Linked DNA regions of Homo sapiens: region 1 is linked to region 2. The links come from fine-mapping of genetic effects on gene expression. A gene starts in region 2. The other region holds a variant in brackets. All regions are shown on one strand. Distances are between the middles of the regions. Region 1 overlaps ELOVL7 (ELOVL fatty acid elongase 7). Region 2 holds the start of NDUFAF2 (NADH:ubiquinone oxidoreductase complex assembly factor 2).

The links.
Region 1: its variant is fine-mapped to the expression of NDUFAF2 in aorta (GTEx, PIP 0.95).

Annotation. Positions count from the first base shown.
Region 1 is chr5:60,736,552-60,753,207 of GRCh38, reverse strand. ELOVL7 (ELOVL fatty acid elongase 7) reads left to right here. Exons shown (of 9, transcript NM_024930.3): 9 at 1-1,417. It also overlaps the pseudogene KRT8P31. Among named protein-coding and RNA genes, the nearest start is that of DEPDC1B, 45 kb to the right of the region's middle. The variant G/A (reference allele first, on the strand shown) is at 7,826.
Region 2 is chr5:60,941,895-60,957,649 of GRCh38, reverse strand. It overlaps NDUFAF2 (NADH:ubiquinone oxidoreductase complex assembly factor 2), which reads right to left and starts at 12,445. Exons shown (of 4, transcript NM_174889.5): 1 at 12,268-12,445. The coding sequence starts at 12,394. It overlaps ERCC8 (ERCC excision repair 8, CSA ubiquitin ligase complex subunit), which reads left to right and starts at 12,580. Exons shown (of 12, transcript NM_000082.4): 1 at 12,580-12,718. The coding sequence starts at 12,642. RefSeq lists an enhancer at 11,680-11,809.

The sequences.
Region 1 (16,656 bases), 200 kb after region 2:
ATTTATACTCAATTTTGAAGCACTGTTTATGTTTGTAGGACTTTAAACAATTAGTACTTAAAGCCCCAGTTAATTTTGAACACACAGAGATACTTATTGTACTCTGTGTACAGTAAGTATTTTTATGTTTACACTTACCAGATTCATAAGGTTATTTGCCTTTAAGTGATCTTTTGTGATTTTACTTGATTACAGCATGAGAAGGTAAAGGTTGATAAATGGGAGTAATTACATATATATATATAATTTATTATTTTTTTTTCTGAAGCAGAGTTTTACTCTTGTTGCCCAGGCTAGAGTGCAATGGCACAATCTCGGTTCACTGCAACCTCTGCCTCCCAGGTTCAAGTGATTCTCCTGTCTCAGCCTCCCAAGTAGCTGGGATTACAGGTGCCCGCCACCATGCTCAGCTAATTTTTGTATTTTTAGTAGAGACAGGGTTGGCCAGGCTGGTCTCGAGCTCCTGACCTCAGGTGATCCTCCCACCTCGGCCTCCCAAAGTTCTGGGATTACAGGGGTGAGCCACTGTGCCCGGCCATAATTTTATATTTTTAGAAAATAAAGAATGAAGGACAAAAGAGCACAGCTAAATGAAACTGCTGCTCTAATTTATTCCACTGGAAAGGTCTCAGGACTCCTTAACTGTTTTCCAGGTTTGGCTCTTCATATCTAACCTGTGCTAAAATGAGAAGGTATGCTAGGTGCTGTTAGAAATCACACCATTTCCAAAGAACCCAAGTAGTATAGAGACCAAAATGAGGCAAAAATAAAAGAGATGAAACAGGAGAGTTTATTTCTTGCATACTTTCCGACCTTCATCATACAACCTCTCCTAACCTCCCTGTAGTCTTTAAAATGTTTAACTTGCCTATAAGCTAACATGTAATAAAACACATACTCAATTATATGAATAGAAGTGGAGAGCCAGAATGCTACAAAAGAAATCACAGCTGCTAGAAGTATCCTCCATAGAAACATCAACATGATTGTGGATCAAAATGATTTTCACTGGATATGGAATTTGTATGGGCCATATTTATTAAAAGAGTTCTGTGTGGTCACATAGAGTTCCTTTGGGATTTCATCCCACTTTTCAGGACTTAATTTGTTTGGGTTTGCTTACCTAACAAGCAACAACAACAACAAAATAAATAGTTCCAAAATCTAGTTTATTACATAAATCTCTATGAATCCTTGAGGGCCTATATCTATATTATAAATAAATACAAATATAGATTTTTAAATATCTATGGGACTTTGCCATTTACAGCCTTAAGTATAAAATTACGAGATTATATTCTTTCCATTACCCTTTATTTCTGCTAACTTTTTAAAGACTGGAACATTCTGTGGATGTTGTCAAAGTTTGAGTTTGTTTTTCCCTGTGTATTATAATAAATTTGTGGTATTGCATGTATACGTGTGTATATTTTTCATTTTGGAATCTAGCTGCATGTATTTGCATGGGTTGGTGACTTTTAATTTGAATACTCACCAATCAAAGTTATTTTACATATTTCTTGTATACGTGCTGTGTTCATCTTTGGGATACAAAGATACTTAGAACATAATTGGGATCTCCTGGAGCTTACCAACTGGCAGATGAAATTATGTGACAGGGCAGTAGATGATAGGTGCCAGATGAGTGACAGTTCTGCCACTTAGCAGACAGGGAAGACTCTATGAAGGAATTTGAATTTGAGTTATGTGTTTAGGTTGTACAGAATTTCAAAATTGGTGGTATGTTAGTAGGCAAGGTTTTTTAAGTGGAAAGAATTAACAAAAAAGAATATTTTGCCATCCCCACTGTCTCTAATAAATGGGACTAGCTAATGATCACTGGTTGCTAAAACAATTAGATGAAAGGTTGATGGGGATGGCTTGTGCTGATATGACTGAACCCAGTGATCAATCTTAATATCATTCAAAGTGGGACAACCAGATGTTTTGTCTCATAATACACTATAATACTCTGAGGTATTCGTGGCAAAAAAATTTTTGAACTTGAATCTAATAAATCCTCTGTATCTAAACTACTAGTTACAGGAAATACAATATATAAGAGTTAAAAGACACAAAAAGGATACCATCAGCCAAGTCCAAAATGTAGGAAATTCCATAGAACAAATGACCTGGTTTCTTCAATAAATAAATGACATTAAAAAAAAAAAAAGAAAACCAGAGAAGGCAACTTTTGTAGATGAAAGACTTAAGATATACTAACCAAATGTCATTTGAATCCTGATTTGAACAAACCAAATCATAAAAGGACATTCTTATAACAATCAGATATAACTGAACATGAACTAAATTTTAAAAGACAAACTATTAATATTAGATATTATTACTGTATTGCAGATGTATATATTTTAAAGTCCTTATATGTGAGATACATACACTGAAGTATGTATATGTAAAATGATAGGTTGTCTGATTTCGTTTTAACATACTCTAGTAAAAAGAAAAGGGGGTGTTGATAATTGTTAAAGTTGGGTAATGGGTTCACTTAATAAGAGTTTATTATACTCTTCTGTCTACGTTTGTGTATGTTTGAAATTGTCCAGTTTTTAAAAAGCAATGTATGTATTATAATGTTCTGTATAGATGTTATTTAAGTTAGGAACCAAAATGACAGAATTGACATGATTTTCACTGGTAGTCAGTCAGTATTGAGGGTGCTTACTGCATCTAAGTGTCATGAGAAACTTTAAAATGTACTGGATGTGGTCCCTGCCCTTAAAAAATTTACAGTACAGTTTAAAAAGACAGGCCTACATCAAATTTTAATAAAAACAAAAGTGGCATACCTGTTGACAAGTGAAAAGTGTATTACAGATTTGCAATATATATTATCCTAAAATTAAGTAGTTACCTTTGATGAAACAAAATATAATGTTCACCAGGACCCACTGAAGATGTTTGATGGAGGAGTAACATGATCAGCCTGGTTATGAGAGCCTCTGGAAAAGAATCCCTTCCATGGAGCCCGAGGCTCCCTGTCACCAGCATTTTCCAGTATTTCCTTCTTGTAGGAAGCAGTTGGGTGTAATAGACTGTAGTTATTGTCTGTCATTCCAAAGCATCATGCCATGTAGCTAAGTACTCTGGGGAAGGGCAGGGATACAGAGAAAATCTGCATATACCATATACCACCAGGGAAGAAGATGTCTTTGTATGCCTTCTTGGGTACCAAATACAATAGAGTCTAGGTCTGTTTCCTTCTAAAGGACTTTCCCAGGAGTCCCACACAACAACTTCCACTTACATCTCAATGGTCAAAACTGCCTCATGGCCATTTCTGGCTGCAGGAGAAGCTGTGAACTAATTTTCTAGATGGGCACATTGTCATCTCCAACAAAATTAGATTCTATTAGTAAGAAAGAAGGTAAGATGACGTTTGAGTAAGCACCTGATGTAACCTCACCCACTGAGAATCCATCACCATGATGGGCCATTATTTTGCACAGAAGTACATATAATTCTTCAAGTGTCTAAATGGAAAAGTGATTGAACACTCTTATTTAGGGCCAGCACTGTGCCTGGCATCAGCAAATGATTAAATCATTACTTCTGGATGAATATATATACACATAAGTTATATATAATGTATTATATATAATAGATTCATTCAAAATGATTGATACACTAATATAATTTAAAATATATAGTCTATATATTATAATTCAGTGTATATATTTAGCATATATTTTTCCATCAGTATACTATTTGTATAGCCTTTGTTATCTTTATATAAATAGTATTGTTGTTTCTCAAGCTGTTACAGTTTGTCTATTATTGACTAACAAATCACCCCTAAATTTGATGACTTACAGCTACATCAAGGCTACATCTCTTACCACTTTGAAGGATCAATGATTTGAGAAGCCGAGTGGTTATTGTTTGGGGTCCCTGGCGCAATTGCAGTCAGACTGTGGCTTAACCAGGAACCAGGAGGTTGAGGCAGTGGGGGATGGCTGGAGATCTCTGTGTAGTCTCAAGTCCTCTCTGTGTGGTCTTTCCCCTTGGGCTACTTTGAGCTTCCTCACAGCATGGCAGTCTCAGGGAAGTCAGACCAAAGGCTTCAGGAGTAAGCATTCCAGTGAACAAAATGGAAGCAGTATTGCCTTTTATAACCTAGCCATAGAAGTCAGGGAATATCACTTCACCTGTACAAAAGCCCACCCATTTTCAAGAGGAGAGGACACAGACCATGTCCCTCAATGGGAAGAGTGTAAAAGCTACCTCGTAAGTACATGTAGGATGGGAGAAATATTGTACTTGGAAAATACAGTCTGCCACACAAAGTATTACCTAAAATAGACAGGAATACTTATTTTTCTCTTTAGAAGAGTTAAAGCCTATCTTTAATTCACACAGTTCTGGTTTGTATTGACTAGTTCTGTAGGTGAAAGTAAGTGCCGTTTTATTTTTTCACTAAGAAAGTGGCCCCTTGCACAGAGAAATAGACTCAGATTTGAGTGTGGAGTTTAAGGTAGGTCCCTAGATTAAATGAGAGCAAGGGTTATGGTTCTCTTTGTTTCAGGCAGCATAAGATACATGATGATTGGGGACGGGGTGGAGATAGAAATTCCTCCAGATGTTTCTAGCAGATACAACCACAATATAACAGGACACAAAACATGTCTTTTATACCAGGCTGCCCCAGAGAGAGGGCCAAAGGGCTCTTACTTTCCTGGCACTGGCTGGGCATGTTCATACTTTTTATTGACAGCCAGTATCAGGTCAGGCTGCACATGTACCTATAACTCAACAAAGTTACAAACTATAACACTCTTCAAATCTAAATATGAACATTTTTGCCTATATTCAAACTACAGCATTATTAAAACATTGCTGCACCTTGTTTGTATTCTAGGACCTACAGGATTCAATTAGTTTGGGATGTACTCTGGTTACTAAAGGGAGAAAGCTTGATATGAGGTAAGTATCTCTAAGTGCCCAGGCCACACAAAAGGACACTCTGTACATAGTCCTTACAACTTAAATAAGAATGATATAAGCATCTGAGTATTTGAATGTGGAGATGTAAACTCGGAGCTACTGTGTTCCTTTTATTTTTTTTATAAGAGATGGGTCTTCCTCTGTTGCCCCAGCTGGAGCACAGTGGCACCTTCATAGCTCACAGTAACCTCACACTACTGGGCTCAAGCAATCTTCCTGCCTCAGCTTCCGGAGTGGCAACATGCCTGGATAATTTTTTTTATCTTTTGTAGAGACGAGATCTTGTTATGTAGCCCAGGCTGGTCTTGAACGCCTAGCGTCAAACGATTCTCCCACTTCAGCCTCTCAAAGCACTGGGATTACGGACAGGAGCCCTCTTGTGCCTTCTATCTTAAAAGTTGCACAAATTCTGGTCAGTGTGTCTTTTGCCCATTTTGGGTTATCTTGCCCATGAAAGTATGCCTTTCTTTTTATTCTTGTGGCAACCCTCCTTGTTCAGACCCGAATAATTTTTCCTAGATTATAATATTATCCTAGATTATAATATAGTCTAGATTATATTATAATAATATTTGCCTAGATTATAATATTATTATATTATCCCTGTATAAAAAGCCTTTCATCCTACTAGATGCTGTCATGGAGAGGAAGCGTGGTGCACTGGTTGGGAGCACAGGCTCTGGAACCAGCCTGCCTGGTCAAATCCTGACTCTGTTTCTTGCTAGCGCTATAACCTGGACAGCTTCTCTGTCTCTTAGTGTCCCAACTGAAAATGGAAACAATACTTCTTTATCCAGTTATTGTGGGATATTAGATGAGTTAAAACAGGGAAAACTTTTAGAGCAGTGCTTTCCTTCCAGTTATTCAGGCTAAAAACCTCAGAGTCATCCTCAGGTCCTTTCTGTCTCACTCAACGCCAAATCCAACAAGAAATCCTGCTGGCTTCCTCTCAAAGTATAACCAGAATCTGACCAATCCTGGGCCCTTATCATCTCATGCCGGGATTCCTGGAATAGCTTCCTGTGTGACTCTCTGTTTCTGCCTTTGCTTCCCTAAAACTTCTTGTCCAAATAGCAGCCAAAGTCATCTCTTAATATAAATCAGATCATGTAACTCTTTTATTCCGAACCCTACAGTGGTTTCTGGTTTCACTGAGCGTAAAAACCCTGTCATTGCTTCTCTGTCCTCACCGCCTACCAATCCCCACTTTGTTCCCTCTGCTCCAGCCACACTGGCCTCCTTGCTGGTCACTGGACCATTGTAAGTGCATTTCCATCTTAGGGTTCTTCATTTATTTTTCTCTGCCTAAGGGACTGTTCCCAAAATAACTGCTTGGCTAAACCCTTCAATTCCCTCCTTTGTTCAAATCTCACTTTTTCAGTACTGCAGCCTGCACCCTCATCTTTCTTTTTCCTATACAGCACTTATTACCTTCTAACATGCTATACAATGCATTTAGTTACTATTAATGTTATTTATTGACTGTCTTCCTCATGAGAAAGTAATCTCTTCAAGGGTAGATGATTTTGTCTATTTTGTTCACTGCAAGTGCCTAGAACAATGGCTGGCATATTACGGGAGTTCAATAACTGTTGTTGAATGAATGAATGAATGAACGAAGCACTGAATAAGTATGTGCTATTGTTATAAATTCTCTTCCTCTGCTCACTCTTTAGTGGTTTAGTCAATCATTCAACAATTTGTTAAACTCCTACTATATGCCAACTGCTGTGCTAGAATATAAAAATGAAGTCAAATAATACCAATCCCCACAGAGATTTTCGCTTGGATAGAGGGCAACAAACATGCAAACAAGTCAAGTCAGATATTCTGCTGTTAAACAAATAGTTTTTGTTTGTTTGCTTGTTTGTTTGTTTTGAGACGGAGTATCGCTCTGTCATCCAGGCTGGAGTACAGAGGCGCAATCTCAGCTCACAGCAACCTCTGCCTTCCGGGTACAAGCAATTCTCCTGCCTTAGCCTCCTGAGTAGCTGGGATTATAGACACCTGCCATCATACCTGGCTAATTTTTGTATTTTTAGTAGAGACAGTAGAAACTGGACCTTTTCCTTATACCACATACGATGGACTAAAGACTAAAATGTATACCCCCAAACTATAAAAACCCTGAAGGACAACCTACGTAATACCATTCTGGACATGGGAACAGGCAAAGATTTCGTGACAAAGATGCCAAACGCAATTGCAACAAAAGCAAAAATTGACAAATGGGATATAATTAAAGAGCTTCTGTACAGCAAAAGAAACTATCAAGAACATAAATAGACAGTTTATAGAATGAGAGAAAATTTTTAGAAACTATGCATCTAACAAAGGTCTGATATCTAGCATCTATAAGGAACTTAAACAAATTTATAAGAAAAAAAACATTAAAAAGTGGGCAAAGGACATGAACACTTTTCAGAAGAAGACATACATGAAGCCAGAAAGCACATGAAAAAAAGCTCAACATCACTGATCATTAGAGAAATATAAATCAAAATCACAGTGAGATTTCATGTCACACCAGTCAGATGACTATTATTAAAAAGTCAAGAAATAAAACAGATGCTGGCAAGGTTGCAGAGAAAAAGAATGCTTATACACTGTTGGTGGGAGTGTAAATTAGTTCAACCACTGTAGAAAGCTATGTGGTGATTCCTCAAAGAGCTAAAAACAGAACTACCATTTGATCCAGCAATCCCTTTACAGGGTATATACTGAAAGAAATATAAATCATTCTATCATAAAGACACGTGCACACGTATGTTCACTCCAGCACTATTCACAGTAGTAAAGACATGGAATCAACCTAAATGCCCACCAATGGTAGACTGAATAAGGAAAGTGTGGCACAGATAAC[G/A]CCATGGAATACATGCAGCCATAACAAAGAACAAGATCATGCCCTTTGCAGGAACCTGGATGGAGCTGGAGGCTATTATCCTTAGCAAACAACATATGTTCTCACTTATAAGTGAAAGCTAAATGATGAGAACACATGGACATATAGAGGGAACAACAGACACTGGGGTCTAAGGCTGAAGTCTGGGAGAAGGGAGAGGATCAGGAAAAATAATGAAAGGGTCTAGGCTTAATACCTGAGTGATGAAACAGTCTATGCAACACACCCCCGTGGCACAAGTTTACCTGTATAACAAACCTGCACATGTTCCCTTGAATTTAAAATATAAATAAATAAATACCAAGAAGCAGCTTGTCCTCTCCTTCTGGAATCTCTGCCTGGTTCAGGCCACCTGCCTCCACTCCTGCCTCCACCATGTCCATCAGGATGACCCAGAAGTCCTACAAGGTGTCCACCATGTGGGCCCGGTGCCCGCATCAACTCCTCGAGCTTCTCTTAAGTGGGCAGCAGCAGCTTCCGGGGTGGCCTGGGCAGAGGCTTTAATGGGGCCAGTGGCATGGAAGGCATCACCGCTGTCACGGTCAACCAGAGCCTGCTGAACTCCCTTAACTGGAGATGGACTCCAGCATCCAGGAGACCACACCCAGGAGAAGAACCAGATCAAGACACTCAACAACAAGTTTGCCTCCTTCATAGACAAGGTACAGTTCCTGGAGCAGCAGAACAAGATGCTGGAGACCAACTGGAGCCTCCTGCAGCAGGAGAAGATGGCTCGGAGCAACATGGACAACATGTTTGAGAGCTACATCAATGAACAACTTTAGGTGGCAGCTGGAAACTCTGGGCCAGGAGAAGCTGAAGCTGGAGGCGGAACTTGGCAACATGCAGGGGCTGCTGGAGGACTTCAAGAACAAGTATGAGGATGAGATCAATAAGCGTACAGGGATGGAGAATGAATTTTTCCTCATCAAGAAGGATGTGGATAAAGCTTACATGACAAGGTAGAGCTGGAGTCTCTTCTGGAAGGGCTGACTGAGGAGATCAACTTCCTCAGGCAGCTGTATGAAGAGGAGATCCAGGAGCTGCAGTCCCAGATCTCGGACACGTCTGTGGTGCTGTCCATGGACAACAGCCGCTCCCTGGACATAGTGTCATCGCTGAGGTCAAGGCGCAGTACTAGGAGATCGCCAACCGCAGCTGGGCTGAGGTTGAGAGCATGTACCAGATCAAGTATGAGGAGCTCCAGACGCTGTCTGGGAAGCACGGGGATGACCTGCGGCATACAAAGACTGAGATCTCCCAGATGAACTGGAACATAAGCCGGCTCCAGGCTGAGACTGAGGGCCTCAAAGGCCAGAGGGCTTCCCTGGAGGCCGCCATCAGAGATGCCGAGTAGCGTGGGGAGCTGGCCGATAAGGATGCCAACGCCAAGCTGTCTGAGCTGGAGGCCGCCCTGCAGTGGACCAAGCAGGACATGGGCGGCAGCTGCGTGAGTACCAGGAGCTGATGAACGTCAAGCTGCCCTGGACATCGAGATCGCCACCTACAGCTGCTGGAGGGCGAGGAGAGCCGGCTGGAGTCTGGGATGCAGAACATGAGTATCCGTACGAAGACCACCAGCGGCTATGCAGGTGGTCTGAGCTCGACCTATGGGGGCCTCACAAGCCCCGGCCTCAGCTACGGCCTGGGCTCCAGTTTTGGCTCTGGTGCGGGCTCCTGCGCTTTCAGCCGCACCTGCTCCATCAGGGCCATGATTGTGAAGAAGATTGAGACCCACGATGGGAAGCTGGTGTCCGAGTCCTCTGACGTCCTGCTCAAGTGAACAGCGGAGGCGGCAGCCCCTCCCAGCCTGTCCGTCCTGCGGCTGCCCCAGAGCACGCGAGGGAGGCGGCTGTGCAGGGGAGCACAGGGAATGGGAGACCCACCTGAGGCTCAGCCCTAGCCCTCAGCCCACCTTCAGGGGAGTTTCCTGCCTGGGGATCCCCCATGCCCATGTCTCCAGCTACAAAACAATTCAATTGCTTTTTTTTTTTTATGGTCCAAAATAAAACCTCAGCTAGCTCTGCAGAAAGAGAAAGAAAGAAAGAGAGAGAAAGGAAGGAAGAAGTTTTTAGCCTGTACAATGAAGGGACAGAAAGGAGAAATAGCTCTATCTGGGCTGTGGTAGGACTTAAGCAGAGACTTTAAAGGGGAGATAATATCAGCTGCCTCATGAACAATAAGGGGATGTTTGCCAGACAGAAAATGAGGGAGAAGAGTGTGCCCAACAGGTAATTCCAGATGAGAAAAGGAAAGAAACACCCTGGCCTAAGCTTGAGGGAAATGTGAAAGGTGAGCCCAGTGTTTCGGCTTTAAGAGTGCAGGACCAGGAGGGATGGGAGGGGCCGGGTGAATGGTGAGTTTGTGGTCAGAGAAGATGCTTGATGTTATTTTTCCCGAATGTTTTAAGATGCGTTTTGTAATATAACATATGGTCTATTCTTGAGAACGATCCATGTGATGAAGAAAAGAATGTGTATTTTGCAGCCGTTGGATGAAATATTCTGTAAATATCTATTAGGTCCCTTTGTTCTGTAGGGCAGATTAAGTTCAACATTTCTTCACTGATTTTCTGTTTGGAAGATCTGTCCAATCCTGAAAGTGGAGTGTTGAAGTCTCCAGCTAATATTGTATTGGGGTCTATCTCTTTCTTTAGCTCTCATAATATTTGCTTCATACATCTGGGTGCTCCAGTGTTGAGTGCACATATATTTACAATTGTGATATCCTTTTGCTGAATTGACTCCTTTATCATTCTATAATGACCTTCTTTGTATCTTCTTATAGATTCTGTCTTGAAATCTATTTTGTCTGATATAAGTATAGCTACTCCTGCCCTTTTTTGGTTTCCCTTTGCATGGATTATCTTTTCTCATCGCTTTATTTTCAGTCTGTGTGTGTCATTACAGGCAAAATGTATTTCTTGTGGGCAACAGATCGTTGGACATTATTTTTTTATTTATTCAGCCACTCTATGTCTTTTAATTGGAACGTTTATTCCTTTTACAGTCAATGTTATTACTGATAAGTAAGGACTTTCTTCTGTCAGTTTGTTATTTGTTTTCTAATTGTTTTGTAGTCTCTCTTCCTTCCTGACTTCCTATTAGTGAAAGTTATTTTCTGTGGTGGTATGTCTTAATTTCTTTCTTTTTCTTTTTTTTTTTTTTTTTTTGCATCTGTTGTATACTTTTAGATTTGAGGCTACCACGGGGCTTCCAAATACTATCTTATAACCCTTTTGTTTTATTTATTTATTTATTTATTTATTTATTTATTTATTTATTTTTTGAGACAAAGTTGCTCTTATCCCCCAGGTTGGAGTGCAATAGAGTGATCTCGGCTCACTGCAACCTCTGCTTCCCAGATTCAAGCAATTCTCCTGCCTCAGCCTCCCGAGTAGCTGGGATTGTAGGTGCCTGCCACCATCACCAGCTTTTTTTTTGAGACAAAGTCTCACTCTGTTGCCCAGGCTGGAGTGCAGTGGCGCAACCTCTGCTGCCTGGGTTCAAGCGATTCTCCTGCCTCAGCCTCCTGAGTAGCTGGGATTACAGGCACCTGTCACTGTGCCTGGCTAATTTTTGTAGTTTTAGTAGAGACAGGCTTTCACCATATTGGCCAGGCTGGTCTTGAACTCCTGACATTGTGATCCACCTTCCTCGGCCTCCCAAAGTGCTGGGATTACAGGCGTGAGCCACCGCGCCCAGCCTTAATTTTTGTATTTTTAATAAAGATGGGATTTCATCATGTTGGCCAGAATGGTCTTGAACTCCTGACCTCAGGTGATCCGCCTGCCTTGGCCTCCCAAAGTGCTGGGATAACTGGCGTGAGCCACTGCGCCCGGCCATAACCCATTATTTTAAACTGATGATAGCACTGATTGCATAAGCAAACAAAGTAACAAGCAAAAAGAAAACTAATAAAAATTCTACACTTAACTTCATTTCCCTACTTTTTAACTTTTTGTTGTTTCCATTTATATCTTATTATACTGTGTATATCTTGAAAAGTTATTGTAGTTATTATTTTTAATTGGTTCATCTTTTCATCTTTCGATTTAAGATATGAGTACTTTACATATCACAATTACAGCATTATAATATTCTGTGTTTTTCTGTGTAGTTACTATTACTAGTGAGTTTTGTGCCTTCAGGTGACTTATTGTTTGCTCATTACCATCCTTTTCTTGAAGATTGATGAACTCCCTTTAGCATTTATTGTAGGACAGGTCTGGTATTGGTGAAATCCTGTGGCTTTTGTTTTTCTAGGAAAGTCTTTGTATCTCCTTCATGCATGAAGGATATTTTTGCTGGATATACTATTCTAGGATAAAAGTTTTTTTTTTTTCCTTCATCACTTTAAATATGTCATGCCACTCTCTCCTGGCTTGTAAGGTTTCTACTGAGGAGTCTGCTACCAGATATTTTGGAGCTCCATTGTATGTTATTTGTTTCTTTCCTTTTGTTGCTTTTAGGGTCCTTTCTTTATCCTTGACCTTTGGGAATTTGATTATTAAATGCCTTGAGGTAGTCTTCTTTGGGTCAAATATTTTTGTACTTGAATATTAATATCTTTCTCTAGGTTTGGGAAGTTCTCTGTTATTATTCCTTTGACTAAATTTTCTACTCCTCTCTCTACCTTTTCTTTAAGGCCAATAACTCTTAAATTTGTCCTGTTGACGCTATTGTGTATATCTTGTAGGTGTGCTTTATTCATTTCTATTCTTTTTTCTTCTGTCTCCTGTGAATGTGTGTTTTCAAACAGCTTGTTGTCAAGGTCAGTAATTCTTTCTTCTGTTTGATCAGTTCTGCCATTAAGAGACTCTGATGCATTCTTCAGTGTCTCAATTATATTTTTCAACTCCAGTATTTCTGCTTGATTCTTTTAAATTATTTCAATCTCTTTGTTAGATTTATCTGATAGGATTATGAATTCCTCTTCTGTGTTATCTTGAATTTATTTGAGTTTCCTCAAAGAGCTATTTTGAATTATCTGTCTAAAGGTCACATGTCTCTATCTCTCCGGGATTGGTCGCCAGTGTATTATTCAGTTTATTTGGTGAGGGGATGTTTTCCTGGATGGTTTTGATGTTTGTGGATGTTTGTCAGTGTCTGAGCATTGAAGAGTTAAGTATTTATTGTAGTCTTCACAGACTGGGCTTGTTTGTACTCATCCTTTTTGGGAAGGCTTTCCAGGTATTTGAAAGGTCTTGGGTGTTGTGATCTAAGTTTTTCGTCACTGCACCTGTGGTTCTTGCAGACTCATAGAGGTACTACCTTGGTGGCCTTGGATAAGATCTGGAAGAATTTTCTGGATTACCAAGTAGAGACTCTTGTTCTCTTCTCTTACTTTCTCCCAAACAAATGGAGTCTCTTTCCCTGTGCTGAGCTGCCTGTAGCTGGGAAAGGGGTAACACATGGACCCCTGTGGCCACCATGACTGGGACTGCACTGGGCCATACCTGAAAGCAACACAACCCTAGGTCTTGCACAAGGCCCACTGTGACTACTACCTGGCTACTACCTATGTTTGCTCAAGCCCCTAGGGCTCTACAGTCAGAAGGGGTGAAGCCAGCCAGGCTTGTGTCCTTCCCTTCAGGGCAGCTAGTTCCCCTGGGTCCCGAGCAGGTCCAGAGATGCTGTCTAAAGGCCAGGGCCTGGAGTCAGAAACCTTAGAACTCAACCTACTGCTCTATTCTGCTGTGGCTAAGGTAGTACCAAAACCACAAGACAAAGTTCTTCCCACTCTTCCCTGCCCTTTCCATAAGCAGAGGTATCTCTCCCTGTGTCCACCACCACCACAGATCCACAGGGAGTACTGCCAGGGTGCCAACGATGTTCACTTAAGGCCCAAGGACTCTTCAGTTAGCTTGTGGTGACTGCTGCCAGGCCTGGGACTCATCCTTCAGGGCAATGACATCCCCTTTGGCCCAGGGTAGGTCCAGAAATGCTGTACAAGAGCCAAGGCCTGGCATCAGGGACCCCACAGCCCTGCTTGGTGCTCTACCCCAGGGTGGCCAAGCTAGTACCTAAGCTGCAAGACAAAGTCCCCTTTATTTTTCCATCTCCTTTTCTTAATCAGAAGGAGTTTCTCCCTATGGCCATCACAGCTGGGAATATGATGGGTCACACGTGACACTAACACATGTTAGTCTCATCCAAGACCCATGGCCTGTACTACTTGGTTACTCTGCTGATTATTCAGGGCGCAGCCTTCCATCAGCAGGTCATGAATCCTGCCAGGACTGGGTTTTTTCCTTCAAGGCAGCAGTTTCTCTTCTGGCCCAGGGTGTGTCTAGGCATGTCATCTGGGAGCTAAGGCCTGGAATGGGGGGCCTCTCAACTCTGCCCGGTGCCCTATTGTAATATGGCTGAGCTGGTATCCAATTGCAAGACAAAATCATCTTTAAGAGTTGTAAGCTACAGTGCCTGAGTTTGTGAGAGGGGTGGTGCATAACTGCCTAACTGCCCTGGCTAGTGTCTTACTAGGTTGCATGCTACCCAAGTCCATTGGCTCTGAGCCCACCTAGCACAGCACTCAGACTTGCCTGGGAGTTGTAGTCCTTGTGGCCTAGACTTCAAGTTTATTTAGTTCCCTAGAGCACTTTAACCTGCAGTGGCGAGGCTTGCTGAAACTCATGTTCTGACTGTTGGCATGTGTGGTTCCCCTTTAGCTAGGGCTGGTCTGAATGCTTCTGCCGTGGACATTGGCTGAGTTCTGCCTAATATTGACAGCACTGAGTTCCAATGCAAAGTTTCACAATCGCTATGTTCTCCCTCCCTAAAGTGCACAGATTCTCTATCTGCACCACATGGCTGCTACTGGGGAATGGTGGAGGGGTGGTGTTGGTGATTCACGGTTGTCTTTTCTACCCTCTTCAGCACCAGCACTGTGACCATTCATCTGATTTTTGGTTCTTATGAAGGTGCTTTTTTGTTCTTATGAAGGTGCTTTTTTGTGTAGATAGTTATTAAATTTGGTATTCCTGTTGGGAGGACGATGGCTTCTGTTTGGCTGTCTTGCTCTGCCTCCCCAGGATATGTTTTTATGGCTGAAAAGAGCCAGGTAGCAAACATGGACACTCACTTATAATCAAAGGCAATGTGAGCTAATATGGAAAAAGAACTTAGCTGTATAGATAAATAACTTTTACTGTGATACATGAAATAAGAAAATGGGACAGAGTATTATCATGGTTTAAAAGTAGACAGATGGGTGGGATTCTTCCCTATTATGAGAGCTACATTTCAATCTTTTCCCTGTAATTAGTTGATGATTAAATAACATATCGATCTTTCACAGTCTGTCTTTTTCTTGTTTTTACAATTAACAAACTGTTTTTAAAATAAGACAGAAACATGTAGTTTAGGTGTTTAAAGACAGTAGAGGGTGGAGACGAGGTCTTGCTGTACTGCCAAGGCTGGTCTTGAACTCTTGGCTTCGCGGGATCTCCTGCCTCAGCCTCCCAGAGCATTATAGGTGTGAGCCACTGTGCCTGGCCTAGAATTTCCTCTCCGTGTGTGTGTGTGTGTGTGTGTGTGTGTGTGTGGGTGTGTGTAAGGCCAAATAGTACTGTATATAAATACTACTTTTTTTTTTTTTTTTTTGAGATGGAGTCTCACTCTGTCACCCAGGCTGGAGTGCAGTGGCATGATCTCGGCTCACTGCAACCTCCGCCTCCCCGGTTCAAGCGATTCTCCTGCCTCAGTCTCCCGAGTAGCTGGGACTACAGGTGCTTGCCACCGTGCCTGGCTAATTTTTTTATTTTTAGTAGAGACGGGGGTTTCACCATGTTGGCCAGGCTGGTCTCGAACTCCTGACCTCAGCTGATCCACCCACCTCAGCCTCCCAAAGTTCTGGGATTACACACGTGAGCCACCGCACCCGGCCATAAATACTACATTTTAAAATCCATTCGACATTAGGGATCGTGACAGATAGGTGGCAGGACTAGATTGCAGCTTTGACTCGGACGGACAGAGCAGCATGTGGAGGAACCAGAACGACTGCAGGAATAAATCAGGAAACCCGAGAGGACCCACAAACCCTCTGAAGGAAGTGGATTGTTCCTGCAGGACCTGGGAGACACCCCAAACACTGTTCTGGTATTCACGACTGAGAGACCCACAGAAGGTTCACATCACAGGACTCTGCGCAGACAATCCAGTACCAGCCCAGAGCCTGGTAGACTTGCTGGGTGGCTGGATCCAGAAGAGCGATAAAAATCACTACACCTTGGCTCTCAGGAAGCACATCCATAGGAAAAGGGGGAGAATACTACATCAAGGGAACAGGGAAACAAAAGAATCTGAACAACAGCCTTCAGCCCTAGACCTTTCCTCTGACAGAGCCACTGGTTCCAAGTGAGAAGGAACCAGAAAGCCAACTCTGGTAATATGACAAAACAAGGTTCTTTAATACCCCCCAAAATCACACTAGCTCATCGGCAATAGATGCAAACCAAGAAGAAATCCCTGATTTACCTGAAAAAAATTCAGGAGGTTAGTCATCAAGCTAATCAGGGAGGCACCAGAGAAAGGTGAAGCCCAATGTAAGGAAATTTTTAAAATGATACGAGAAGTGAAGGGAGAAATATTCAATGAAATAGATAGCATAAAGAAAACAATCAAAACTTCAGGAAACATTGGACACACAGAAATGCAAAATGCTCTGGAATGTCTCAGAAACAGAATCAAACAAGTAGTAGAAAGAAATTCAGAACTCGAAGACAAGGTCTTCAAATTAACTCAATCCAACAAAAACAAAGAAAAAAGAATAAGAAAATATGAACAAAT
Region 2 (15,755 bases):
GGTCTGTCTGGGTGCAGACAGCTAATTTCAAGTAAATTGAGGGCTATGCTGCAAAAGACATCTAAGGAGGGTAATCAGGAATCAGAAGAACAGCTTTTAAAAAGATAAAGGGAGAATCTATAGAGACATAAACTGTTAAAAAAAAAAAAAGTAAACAGATCAGCCAATAAACAAGAACATTATAACATTATACGATAACCAAGAAAATGTGAATGGCTGGATATCTGATGATATTAAGGGATTTATTTCTATATATGATGATGGTGTTATTGTTACATTTAAAAACAGGAGTGCTTGTGTTTAAAAGATACATACTGAAATGTTTATAGGTAAATTGACAAGATGTTTGTTACCTGCTTCAAAATAAAATAGGAAAGATAACTGGGGGTTAGGAAGAAAATTATATTTAACCACAAGTATAACTGTAAAAAGTAAGCTTCAGGTATGTGGAGGTTTGCTTTCTCATTCTCTCTACTATATTTTAATTCAATAATTAAAAATAAATAAAACAGTGATTCTCAAGTTAGAACAAAAGGTAAAATCCAACTAATATTCTTAAAAAGGAAGCACAAAAGGTATAAAACACCCTTCAGTTATAAGCAAAATTCTATTTCTGATTAGCAAACCTCAATTTTAAATTATCAACTTTAAAATTGGTTAATACCTCTTTTGATCCGGTTTCTCAAAGTTTGGTTAATACCTCTTTTGATCTGGTTTCTCAAAAGTGTTTGAGAACTTCATATTCAAAAGGCAGTATTTTCTTTTTAACTAAAAAAAATAAAATATAAAATTCAGGAGATGATATTATAAATAATGTTTGGCACACTGATAATCCAAATATACGTGTGTCTAAATATACTCACACAGAAATACAGAAAGTATAGAAAATATAGTTTGGCAGTAAATGTTTTCATAAAAACCTCAGCACAAATTTTTCTTGGCTCACAACTTTTATAAACGTATAAGTAACACTTCAAAAAATTGAGATAACATATACAAATCAATGTGATATACCAAATCAACAAAATGAAGGACAAAAACTGTATGACCATCTCAATAGATGCAGGAAACGCATTTAACAAAATTCAGTCCTTTTTAAGATAAAAATTCTTAGTGTCAGGTATAGAAGGGATGCACCTCAACATAATGAAGGCCATATATGACAAATCCACAGTTAATATTATATTCAAGAGTGAAAAACAGACAGCTTTTCCTCTAAGGTTAGGAATGAGACAAGGATGCCTACTCTCACCACTCCTATTCAAAAACAGAAGTTCTAGCAAGAGCAACTAGGCAAGAAAAACAAATAAATGGCATCCAAATTAGAGCGGAAGAAGCCACAGATGATGACCTTACATATAGAAATCCCCAAAGATTCCACACACAAAAAAAGCTGTTCAGACTAATGAATGAATTCAGCAAAGTTGCAGGATACAAAGTCAACATAGAGGCCAGGCATGGTGGCTCATGCCTATAATCCCAACACTTTGGGAGGCCGAGGCAGGTGGATCACTTGAGCCCAGGAGTTTAAAACCAGCCTGGGCAACATGGTGAAATCTCATCTCTACAAAAAATACAAAAATTAGCTGGGCATGGTGGCACATATCTGTAGTCCCAGTACTTAGGAGGATCACTTAGGCCCCAGGGGCAGAGGTTGCAGTGAGCTGAGATCGCGCCAGTGCCCTCCAGCCTGAGTGACAGAGCGAGACTCTATCTCAAAAAAAAAAAAACAAAGTCAACATACAAAAATCTATTGCATGTCTAGGTACTATCAACAAATTATCTGAAAAGGAAATTAAGAAAACAACCTACTTACAATAACATCAATAAAGTAAAATATTTAGCAACAAACTAAGGAAGTGAAAGACTTATTCACTGAAAACTATAAAACATGGATGAAAGAAATGCTTTCAAGCAGACAGGAATAAATGCAATGACATCTGATATGTTCATGGACTGGAAGAATTAATATTGTTAAAGTGCTCATACTACCCAAAGCAATCTACAGATTCAACACAATCTCTAACAAAACTCCAATGACTTTTTTTTTCCAGAAATAGAAACAACAATCCTAAAATTCATATGGAATTACAAGAAGACACTGAGTAGCCAAAACAATTTTAAGCAGGAAGAACAAATCTGGACGCATCACACTGTCTGATTTCAAAATACGTTTAAAAGCTACAGTAATCAAAACAGTATGGTACCAGTATAAAACCAGACATATAAACTATTGGAACAGAAGACAGAACCTAGTAATAAACCCACACATGAGGACAAGTGAGTTTTGACAATTATGCCAAGAACACACAGTGAAGAAAAGATAATCTCTTCAAATAAATGGTATTGGGAAAACTAGATATCCACATGCAGAGGAATGAAATTGGACGCTTATCTCACACTGTATATAAAAATCAACTCAATATGAATTAAAGATTTCAATGTAAGTCCTTAAACTACAAAACTCTTAGAAGAAAACAGGGAAAAAGCTTCTTGACATTGGCTTTGGCAATGATTTCTTGGATATGACACCAAAAGCACAAAACAACAAAAGCAAAAATAGATAAGTCTGATTACGTCAAACCAAAATACTTCTGCAAAGCAAAGGATACAAAGGCAACCTATGGAATAGGACAAATATTTGCAAACCATATCTCATAAATGATTAAAAACCAAAATGTATCAGTGACTTCTATGACTTAATAGCAAAAAACCAAATAAATTGATTTTAAAATGGGCAAAGGAACTAACAGGCATTTCTCCAAAGAAAACATACAAAATAGCCAACAAGTATATGAAAAGGTTCTCAATATCACTAGCCAACAAGGAAATCAAGTTAAAACCACAATAAGCTATCACCTTATACTTGTTAGGATGGCTACTATTTAAAAAAAAAAAAAAGGACAGCAGAGCACGGTGGCTCATGCCTGTAATCCTAGCACTTTGGGAGGCTGAGGCGGGCAGATCACTTGAGGTCATGAGTTCCTTGATATTTAACAGGAAGAATTTCTAAGAGACAAAATTAACACATGAAAGGAAAAAGTTGTATTTTCAGATACCTAAAATTTTCTAAAATCTAGTACATAGTATATATGTTAGCTAGTCTCAGATTTCAAAGAACAGTTACGCTCAAGTTATCTCAGGTAACCAGGGAATACTGTAAAGATACAGGAAGAAAGACGAAAAACTCAACATTTGCAAAATAGAGACAACTGGAATGTGATTTAGGACACAACAATACCTATTGTGCTCTAATAGGAACCTTTCAACATGCTTGCCACCCTAACTTCTTAGAAATGGACATCTACTGATCCCTAATTATTCTCATATTTTCCTCTCTCTATATATCTATGAGTTCAAATTTCAACAGAAAAAAATTTGACCATGTTTGGTCTGTTACCAACCTATACAGAATGCCTATATGGGGCAGAATTCTCACACCTAGCCACATCATAGGTCTTTGGCTATCTTACAGCTAATGACTTGGGACCAGAGACATGGATATGGGTATCATGGTGACCTGTAAAGCTGGAACTAGTCCTAGTTACCAGCTACTTTGTCTAAAATACACAGCCAACACTCAAAAAGCACCACAATCTTCCAGTAAAACAATCCTAACTTATATCACTAGAAATAATGATTTAGAACATTTACATCTGTGTCTATGTGTTCCTCATTTGCATGGAAAGGAGAAATTCCTTTGGTTGTTGTCAATAGGGCACATACAAAGTATGTGTGACTATCTCAAATAATTTTATACCGACTAAATTTGAAAAAAAGCTTTACTATTAAAGCCAAAACACTGTTATTCAATGTAATCATGCATTTTAAAATATATATTCATAAATACAGTAAACCATAGCATTAGGTTACATTAAAAACATTTACCAAAGCCTACATTATGCATATACTCTTCCTCAATTCATAGGCTACTCCTTTTAAGCTCGTATAGAATTTACTGCTTGCTTTTCTCTAGACATTTACTCACTATGACTGCAGTAGAAACTACACCCAACAAATACATCAACCAAATGAGGACAGAATAAAAATCTTTTCAGACATTCAAAGACTCAAAAACTTTATCCGCCTTGAACCTCTTCTCAGGAGGCTACTGAAGCATATATGCTACAAAACTGTGGTGAAAGGCCCAGAATCCAGGGAATAAGATATCCAGTAGAGGGAAGAGGAAAGGGAATTATGGTCTCTGTGTAATGAATTCTTTCAGGTACAGTATGTCTGAAAAAACCTTCATTTGCCTTTGTTTTAACAAGGTATTTTTGTTGTGTACAAAATTATAGGTTGGCAGACTTTCTCTTTTGGTACTTTAAAGATATTGTTCCACTGTCTTCCAGCTTATATTGTTTGTTTTAAAAAAAACCCTGAACTCATTTTCGTCTTTCTTCCTCTGTAAGTAATGTATCTTTTTCTCTAGCTCTATAAAGATTTTCTCTTTATCAATGGCTTTGAGCAATTTGATAATAATATGCCTTGGTGTGGTTTTCTACACTTTTTGTTTTTGGAATTTGTTGATGATTTGGGGTCTGTGGGTTTATAGTTTTCATCAAATTTGGAATATTTTTGGCCATTATTTCTTCAAATATTTTTGACCTGCAAAATGACCTTTACCCCTCATGGTATCCAATTACATATATTAGGCCACTTGGGGGTATCCCACAGCTTGCTAATTGCTCTTTTTTTTCTGGTCTTTTTTCTCTCTGTGTTTTATTTTGGGTAATTTGTATTATTATCTTTCAATTATAAATGTGTAAGGACCTAACAATAGGTATTGAAAATACATGAAGCAAAAACTGATAGAACTGGAAAGAGTAAAAGACAAATGTAAACTTGTATTCAGAGACTGTAACATACTTTTTTCAATAATTGATAGAATAAGTACAAAAAAAATCAGTGTGAATATACAAAGCTTGAACAACTCTATCAACCAGCTTGGGCTAACTGACATTTACAGAACATTCAACCCCAAATAGCAAAATAGATAATACATTTTTCTCAAGCACAAACAGAAGATTTACCAAATTGCACCATACTCTAGGCCATAAAACAATTTACAATACATTTAAAATAACTGAAATCATATAAAATATGTTCTCTGAATATAATAGAATTAAACTAGAAGTCAATGAAAATCTCCATCTAGAAAATCTCCAAATATTTGTAAAGAACATACTTCTAAATAAATACATAGGTCATATAGGAAAAAATAAATAAGAAAATATATTCGTTACATGAAAATTTTAAGATAAAAATTTGTGAAATGTGGCCAAAACAGTGCCTACAAGAAATTTTAACATTAAAAATGTATATTAAAAAATAAACAGATCAAATTATGATCTCAGTGGCCACCTTAAGAAACTAGAAGAACATATAAAACCAATTGAAAGCAGAAGAAAACGATGACGATATAAGAGAAAGCGATAAGTTCTGAAACCAATGGAAAAAACTTACAGAGAAAAATCAGTGAAACTCAAAGCTAATTCTCTAAAATGATCAATAAAATTAACAAACCACTCATCAGATAGGCCAAGAAAACAATAGCCACAAATTATCAATTCAGGAAAGAGAGGATATCACTACAAATTGTACAAACATTAAAAAGATAATGAAGAGGTATTACAACTTTATGACTGTAAATTCAACATACTAGATAAAAAGGGCAAACTACTCAAAAGATAAAAACTACCAAAACTCACCTAAGACAAAATAGATAGCCTGAGTAGTCTTATACCTGCCAAAGATATTAAATTTGTAGGTTAAAAATTTATTATCTTTGAATTTTTAATTCCAGCCTTCCAACAAGGAAAACTCCAGGACCAGATGGCTTCACAGGCAATTTATATCCAACATGTAAGAAATAAGTAATACAAATTCTTCACAAACGCTTCCAGAAAATTCAAAAGAAGGAAACAAAATTTAACTCACTTTATAAGGCCAGCATTAACCTAAAAACAAACCTAGAAAACACATTAAAAGGAAGAAATTAAGATCCTGAAGAACAGAAAACAAAATTCTTCAATAAAATGAAAGCACATCAATCCAATAATATATAAAAAGGATAATGCATCATGACCAAGTGGAGTTTACCTGACAAATGCAATATTCAAGACATTCAACAATCAATCAATGCCAAATGAGTTAAAAGCTTATGTCCACTCAAAAAACTGCACAGGAATATTTATAGCAGCTTTATTCATAATCGCCAAAACTTGGAAGCAACCAAGATGTCCTTCAATATGCAAACGAATAAACAGTGGTTCTAACCATACAACAGAATATTATTTAGCAATAAAAAGAAAGTAGATGGCCAGGCATCTGGTTTACTCCTGTAATCCCAGCACTTTGGGACGCTGAGGCAGGCAGATCATCTGAGGTAAGGAGTTCAAAACCATCCTGGCCAATATGGCGAAACCCTGTCTCTTACTAAAATTACAAAAATTAGCTGGGCATGGTGGTGGGCACCTGTAATCCCAGCTACTCGAGAGGCTGAGGCAGGAGAATCACTTGAACCTGAGAGGCAGAGGTTGCACCGAGCCAATATCGCACTACTGCACTCCAGCCTGGGCGACAGAGTGAGACTCTGTCTCAAAAATAAATAAATAAATAAAAAGAAAGGAGCTATTATGCCACAAAAAAACATGGAGGAAACTTAAGTGCATATTACTAAGTGAAAGAAGCCAGTCTGAAAAGATCACATACTATATGACAGCAACTACATGACATTCTGGAAAAGGCAAAACTACAGAGACAGTAAAAAGATCAGTGGTTGCTAGGGGTTTGGTAGCAGGAAGGGAGGAAGTGAGGACACATTAATGCAAGATATTAACAATGGGAGAAACTGCATTGGGGGAGCAGGAATATCTGAGTAGTTTCCATTCAATTTTTCTGTAAACCTAAAATTGCTCTAAAAAATAAAGTCTATTAATTTTTAAAAGTCAATCAGTATAAATTCACCACATGATCATTCCAACAGAACCAAAAAAAAAAAAAAAACCCAGCAAGCAAGCATGTGACAAAATTGACAAAATTCAACATCGATTCATAAGAGAAAGCGCTCAGCAAACGAGGTACAGACAGGGAACTTTGTTAATTTAATAAAAGGTATCTAAAAAATTATAGCTAACACCACACTTAACAATGAAAGAGTAGTGGCCAGGCGTGGTGGCTCATGCCTGTAATCCCAGCACTTTAGGAGGCCAAGGTGGGCAGATCATCTGAGGTCAGGAGTTCGAGACCAGCCTGTCCAACATGGCGAACCCCATCTCTCCTAAAAATAAAAAATTAGCCAGGCATAGTGGCACATGCCTGTAATCCCAGATACTCAGGAGGCTGAGGCAGAAAAATCGCTTGAAACCAGGAGGTGGAGGTTGCAATGAGCCAAGATCACGCTATTGCACTCCAGCCTGGGCAACGAGAGCGAAATTCCACCTTTGGGGAAAAAAAAAATGAAAGATTAAATGTTTTTCTTCTAAGATATGGAACAAGAAAAAGATACCTATGCTCACCACTCTTATTCAACATTATACTGGAGGCTCATCTAGTGCAGCCAGGCAAGAGAAGGAAATAGAATGCAAATAAGTTAGAAAGGATAAAAACAAAACTGTCTCTATCCACAGTTGATATAATTACCTACAGAGAATGTCCAAAGGATCTGCAAAAGGCTTCATTCAAGAACTAGTAGGTGAGTAAAACAGGTTGCAAGATACATGCTCAACATGGAAAAATCTATTGTACTTCAATATAATAGTAACAAAGAATTAGAAATTACGTTTTTTAAAGCATCATTTATAATAACAATACAATATAATATACTTTATAATAAATTTAACAAAACATATCATGATCTCTATGCTGAAAACTACAAATCAGTGATAAATTTTTAAAAATGACCAAGTAAAAGGTCTCTGTGAATTAAGTCAAACTGATTTCGACATTAAATCCCATTCTCTTAAATGCTACGTTATCCAATTTGTCTCTCTTGAGTAGCAAAAATACTTTGTGAGGCTAAGTAGGTACTGTTATTTCCGTTTTACAGAGTAAGCTGGAGCTGCTATGGCCAAGCACTCACACTCTTAGGTATGTACTCATGGAAAATGAAAACTTATGTTCACACGAAACCCATATGTGAATGTTTCTTGCAGCTGTATTCATAATCACCAAAAACTGCAAGTAACTAAACTCAAATGCCCTTTAATGAGTAAATGAACAAACTGGTACATCCATTAACATGGAATACTAATCAGCAGTAAAAAGGAGCAAACTACTGATATACGTAATGAATCTCAAAGGCATTATGCTGAATAGAAGAAGCCAGGTTCAAAAGGTTACATATGGTATAAGTATACATGTGGGACAGTCTCAAATGGAAAAAAGTATAATGGCAGAGAACAAATCAGTGGTTGCTGAGGTTAGGGATGAGGAGAGATTGTAACTACAAAAAGGTAGCATGAGGGAGTTATTCAGGGTGACGGAACTGTTCTGTATCCTGATTTTGGTGTTGGTTACATGAATCACATGTGTTCAAATTTATAGAACTATACACCAATTTTAAAAGTTAATTTTACTGTATTTTAAAAATAGAATCTAAAAAAACCAACTAATAGCAAACAGAAAACTAAAGAAAAAAAATGAGATACCACAACACACCTACTAGAAGAGCTAAAATTAAAAAGACTGACCATACCAAGTGTTGATAAGGATATAGGACAACTGGAAATCTCATACACTCCTGGTGGGAAGGTAAAACGGTACCACCACTTAGGCAGTTTCTTAAGAAGTTAAACATACACCTAACAAGTTGACTCAGCCATTCCATTTCTAAATATTACATCAAGAGAAATAAAAACATAAGTCCATACAAAGACTTACACATGAATGTTCATAATTTATTTGTAATAACCCCTAACTAGAAACAACCCAAATATCTATGAACAGGTGAATGGATAAACAAATTATGGTATATACATACAATGGAATATTACTCAGCATTAAAAAGAAATAAACTACTGATAAACACAAAAACATGGATGAATCTCAAAATAATTATGCTGAGTGAAGAACCTAAAAAACAAAAAAAAAAAAAAGCAGAATATGTGCTGTATGCTTCCACTTAAATAAAATTCTAGCCAGGCGCACTGTCTCACATCTGTAATCCCAGCACTTTGGGAGGCCGAGGCAGGCAGATCACAAAGCCAGGAGTTCAAGACCAGCCTAACCAACATGGTGAAACCCCGTCTCTACTAAAGATACAAAAAGTTAACTGGGCAGGGTGGCACACATCTCAGTTACTTGGGAGGCTGACGCAGGAGAATCACTTGAACCTGGGAGGCAGAGGTTGCAGTAAGCCGAGATAGCGCCACTGCACTCCAGCCTGGGCGACAGGGCGAGACTCCATCTCAAAATAAACAAATAAAAATAACTAAATAAAAATTATAAAAAATACAAACTAATGTATAGTGTCAGAAATCAGATGAGTGCCTATCCATGGAAGCAGAAGCATAAGGCAAGACTAGAAAGGAGCACAACAAATTGTTGTGGATATTGAATATGTTAATTTTCTTGACTGTGTTGATGGTTTCACAGATATATACATATGTCAAAACTTACCAAATTATACATTTTAAGCATGGGCAATTTTTTTTGTCAATTATACTTCAATAAAACTCTCAAAATGCAATTACAATTATGTAAGAAAATATACAAATTAGTGAGAATATGTAAAAATAAAATATTCATGTTATTGTAGAATAGACATGACTGTTAATTTGAAACTTTAATGGTATTGTATCTCTATATAAATGAATGATACAAAAACTGGTATAAATATATTTGTTTGTTGTTTTTTGGGCTTGTTTTTTTTTTTTTTTTTTGAGGTGGAGTCTCACTCTGTCACCCAGGCTGGAGTGCAGTGGTGTGATCTCGGCTCACTGCAACATCCGCCTCCCAGGTTCAAGTGATTTTCCTGCCTTAGCCTCCCGACTAGCTGGGATTACAGGCGCGTGCCACCATGCCCAGCTAATTTTTGTATTTTTAGTAGAGATGGGGTTTCACCATGTTGGCCAGGCTGGTCTGGAACTCCTGATCTCAGGTGATCCACCCACCTCGGCCTCCCAAAGTGGTGGGATTACAGGCATGAGCCACCGGACCCAGCCATAAATGGATTTTTTAATGGGCAAAAGGTTTGAACAATACTTCACCGAAGATCTGTAGATAGTAAATAAGCACATGAAAAGACTGTCAACATCCTCAGGCATTAGGAAAATGAAACTTAAAATCACAATGAGATACCACTATATACCTATCAAAATGGCTAAAATAAAAATAAAAACACACCCAAAAATCAGATAATACTAAGTGCTGGTGAGGGTGTGGAAACAACTAGAATTTTAATGCATTGCTGGCAGGAATACAAAATGGTACAGCCACTTTGAAAAACAGTTTGGTAGTTTCTCATAAAGTTAAACACACATTGATCACACAACTTAGTAATCCCACTACTAGATATTTACCCAAGAGATATGAAAACTTACGTTCACACAAATCCTGTATGGGAATGTTTGTAGAGCTTTTGTCACAATCACAGAAACTGGAAACATCCTAATGTCCTTCAGCTTGTGAACAGATAAACTGGCAAACCCATACAATGGAATACTACTGAGCAATAAAAAGGAACAACTACTGACACATGGATGAATCTCAGCTACATTATGCTATGTGAAGCAAGCCAGACTCAAAAGTCTAAATCCTGTATAATTCCATTTATATGATATTCTAGAAAAGACAAAACTATAGGCCCATAAAACACATCAGTAGTTGCCAAAGGGTGTGGGAATGAACTACTAAGGAGTTGGAGGAAATTCTGATGGTGATGGAATTATTCTATTACTTGAATCCAGTGAGGTTACTCTACTCATTTGTCAAAAACAATAAAACTGTACACCATAAAGGGTGAATGTTACTGTATGTAAATTATATTTCAATTTAAAAAAACTCAGTCTGACAGTTTGCATATTTTTAATTTTACTGACAACTTATGGAAAAGAAACATCTCTCTGCTTGCAACCTGTCAAGAAATACTTAACACCATGCTATGTTCTTTGCAGGCTTTTTTCTTTTTTTGTGAGACATATTCCCTGCCTGACAGAGGAGCTCATTAGGGAAACAAGTCTAAATATTAAAATAAGTTACAGAAAAAGGCCAGGCAAAAATAAATTAATTGAGTGATAAATCACAGAATACATTTTATATGTGTGGGAAATGAATGGCACATAATCTTGGAAAGGTCTTAGTGCTTCTCAACATTGCTGATCTTATATTATCTCTAACTTTCAAGTGAGGATGTTGAGACTTGGAGAGGACAAGTACTTTTTCCGTGATTCCCGAGCTATCAGGTGTCAAAGCTGAGATTCTAACCCACGCCTCTTCGCCCAAAACCTGACATTTTCTGCATGCGGCGATGGAACAACACAGAAGAGGTTACGACGGCGGCTACACAGTGTGATTTCAATGGACAGCAACGCCTCCTTACTCCCCAAACAACCCGCTCAACTACTTGGCACGAATCCTACACAGTAACACCATGATTATTGCCACGTTTCTTAAATTGAGCTCAACGGGGTCTTGGAATGTCAACTCCCGAGAAAGGAATCAGCGAGCCTTGTGGGGATATGGACCTACTTCTGACAAGTCTTGGTAGTAAGGAAGGCGCATGGGGCCAGCGCCGGAGCCAGGGTGCCACCGAAAAGGGTAAACACCAAGAAAGAAGACAGCCGAGGCGCTGAAGATACTCCTCTTCAATTACACCACTCAGCTCTGGGTCACAAGGCGGGGAACAGCGTACGAAAAACCCCTCCCCTGGCCCTTCTAGCCCCTTTGGTGAAAGATTTCCGTGGACTTTTCCCTGCCTCCGTCGCCAGTCCAGGGCTAAAACTGAGGCTCCTCTACAGGCGTGGCTGGGAGGAAAGTGGTGGTGCGCCTTAACAGCGCAAGCAGCCCGGGGCACGCCGGGGGAAGGCGCTGGGTAGTAGGGACCGCGGACGCACGAGGCCGGGCCAAGGCGCCCAGAGCCGGGCCGGGTAGGGCTCCGATGCCAGAGTGAAGGGGTCGACAGGGGAGAACGAACTCGGGAAATTCTCTCCGGTGACACCCTAAGTGTCGCATGATGCGTTAGTTGACTAGGGGCTCTCACTTTTCCCTCCTTTACTGACCTCGCAATCACTGACCACGCAATCGCTGCCCACGCCGCCACCTCACCTCTCCAGTTCTTGTACTGCGGGATGTAGTAGTATTTGTTCCCGAATTGGTCCGTGCCCACGTGCTCCTTCACTTCCCTTGACAGCGATCTCCACAAGGCGCGGAACAAATCCTGAGACCAACCCATGCCGTCCACCCAGTTTCCAGCGCTGCCAGCAGCGGGACCCGCAGTAGGGGTAATGCTCCAGCCGCCGACCCAGCCCACCGAGGCGGAGAAGTCAGGTCGGCCTCCATCCTGGAGCCCTTCTAGTAACGGCGCTCACCATTGGCCGGATATATCACCGACTGACCAATGGGAGACTCTGCTGTTCCAGTCCCGCCCCTGAGCTCTGTCATGGCGACGTCCAGTGCTCCAGCCGGTGTGAGGACACGATATGCTGGGGTTTTTGTCCGCACGCCAAACGGGTTTGGAGGACCCTCTTCGCCTTCGGAGAGCAGAGTCAACACGGAGGTAAAGAAAACCTTACTTTTTGGCTAACAGGCCAGTTAGAATCTGGACCAATGACTGTAAGCTTTGCCCCACACTTTCCCGTCTCATCGCTCTCCTGCCACCAAACTATTATTTGCCCTCTAATGCTGTGTGGCTTGCTAAAATAGGATCCCTTTTATTTACTGGTAACAACTTGCAGGCGGGGGGCGGCGGGGGTGGGGGGGGTTCCCCGGGGGTGGGGGGGGGGTTCCCCCGCGGGCTCAGGTGAAGACACTATAAACCTAAATAAGAATACTTCGTTGTACTGTATTCCTTCTCTCTTAAGTTACTCCAAAGAATAACTGCCCTCCACGGACTCGTTCATTCATTCAGTCTGCATATTTAGTGAATTCCTACAGTGTGCCAGGCAGCCTATTAAAGGCAGAGGACACAGGCCAGGAATTGAACAAAGTTCAGAATGACTAGAGCGGAGAATTGGGGTAGGGACCATTGACAAGAGATGAAGTAGACAGAAACTAGATGAGGAAGAGCCTTGTGTACTTGAGTAGAGGTGTGAAGATGAGAATAAGGTAACAGCTATTGCATTTTGTTTTCTGCTTGGAGAATGGGTTGCAACTGAGAACAAGAGTGGGAGCCAAGTTAGGTAACTGTTGTGATTACACTTGTCCGGGAGAGAGTTGTTGGAAGCCTGGGCCACAGAGTTGCCAAGTAGAATAAAGATAGTGGAGAGATTTGAACAACGTCTGAGAAATAGAATCAACAGGCCATGGAAATTGAGTGGATACGTGAATGACAAAAAGAGAAGAATGAATAATGATTCCCAGATCTATGCCTTGTATAAGAAGTTGAATGTTGGTAATATACTCTGAGAGAGGGTTTTCCAAAGGGAAGAAGCAAGTTGTACTTTTAATTTTGCCCACATTAATTGAGGAACCTGTGAAGATATTTACTTGGAGAACACAGTTGCTTATGAGTTCTGCGTTCTGGAGAAATTTAAATATTAGTTTCCAACATTTTATCCATTACGTTTTCAATGTTGTGAAATATCTCTGAGAGTTCCTTTAATGTGTTTTTTTTGCCAGTGTCACTTCCTCTGACACATCATCAGCCTTTCATCACAATCACTTTTCCTCATTTATGTCTATAAGTTCACCTTCACTGATTTCCTCAGTCTGCATATCTAGAATGTCTCAAATGGCGGCAGTGTCATTGTTGCCACAATCAGCATGTTCCCACAGGCAGCTTTTTTTTCATTTGCTCCATTTATGTTTAATGCAAGTTTCACTTCTAGTATTATCACTCTTCTTTAGTGCACTTTCATTCTTTTGGCCAATTTCCTCTTTTAATCTGTAAAATTCCATGTGGGTTTATCTCAAGGGCACAGAAATATTAATAACAAACCTCCATGCTTTGCAGCCTGTGTGTGAACTGAATAACAGATGCACAGTGACCAATCACCCATAGACTTTGAAAGAAGTAAAATTGCAAATTGGTCAATTTTGATTCATATGTTATTTATGTAATGATTTGTGAACTGAAAAGCTAGTAGCAAACTTTTATGCTATTTCTCACGGTTAATAAACTGTGGTAACTGAAATTCATATCAGACTGTGCCAAGTGAGGATTGCTTATACGTTTAAGACAAATAAAGTATTTAAAAATTAAAAAAATATTTTTTTTTTGAGGCAGGGTCTTGCTCTGTCACCCAGGCTGGAATGCAGTGGTGCAGTTACAGCTCACTGCAGCCTCGACTTTCCAGGCTCAAATGATCCTCCCATCTCATCCTCCTAAGTAGCTGGGACCACAGACATGTGCCCACACACCTAGCTAATTTTTAAATTTTTCGTAGAGATGGGGTCTCCCTATGTTTCCCATTCTGGTCTTGAACTCCTGGGCTGAAGTGATCCTCCTGCCTTTGCCTCCTAAAGTGCCGGGATTATATGTGCGAGCTACCACACAGCCTAAAATTTTTTTAAAAATATTTCCATCATTAAGTGATGTTTTTGCTTAAACAATTATATAGTTCCATTTTATTCATAGGAGATGTCTACTGTTCTTCCTTGTCATCATGTAAGAGCAAAAGGATGAACACTGATATGCAGTGTTCACAGTTTACACCCTCTAAAAAAACATTTTACAACTTTATTGAGGTATAATTGACATGCAATACCCTGCACATTAAATGAGAATATACAATTTGATGAATTTTGACATATATTTACTTTTGAAACCATTACCATAATCAAGAGAACATCCATAACCCTAAAAAATTTTTGACGGTCATTTATAATCCCTGTCTCCCTTCTTTCTCTGCTTTACCCTCTTCCTTCTCTAGAAACTACTAATCTGCTTTAGGTCACTATAGATTAGTTTGCATATCTAGTATTTTATATAAATGGAATCTTTTTTGTCTGGCTTCTTTCACTCAGCATAATTACATTATTTTGAAATTTCTCCATGTTATTGCATGTATCAATTCCTTTTTTTTGCTGTGGAGTATCCCACTGTGCAGATATACCACAGTTTATCTAGTCACTTGTCGATGGACATCTGAGTTGTTTCCAGTTCAGGACTAATACATTTACAGCTGCTCTGAAAATTCATGTATGAGTCATTGTATGAACATATGCTTTTATTTCTCTGAAGTTAATGCATAACAGTGGAGCTACTAGATAAATCCTTTACTTTTTAAGAAACTGACAGTTTTCCAAAAGCATTTTCCAGTCCCACCACTAATAGGTGAGAGTGCTAGCTGCTCCATATTTATGTTTCCCCTTTCCTGCTTTCATTTGACTGTTTGAACATTATTTAGTATTCTATTTTATATACTATGGTTTTGACTATATCTTTTTGTATAATTCTTTAGTGGCTGCTCTAGGAATTATAAAATACTTACTTTTCGTTGTCTACTTCGGATCATTTCATTGTTTTACTGCTTCATTTGGCATATAGAAACCTTATCACCCTTTCCCCTGCACCATATATATATTGTTGTCTTATATTTTATATTTACATACATTATATACTCTATCAGACATTATAATTTTTTCCAACCATC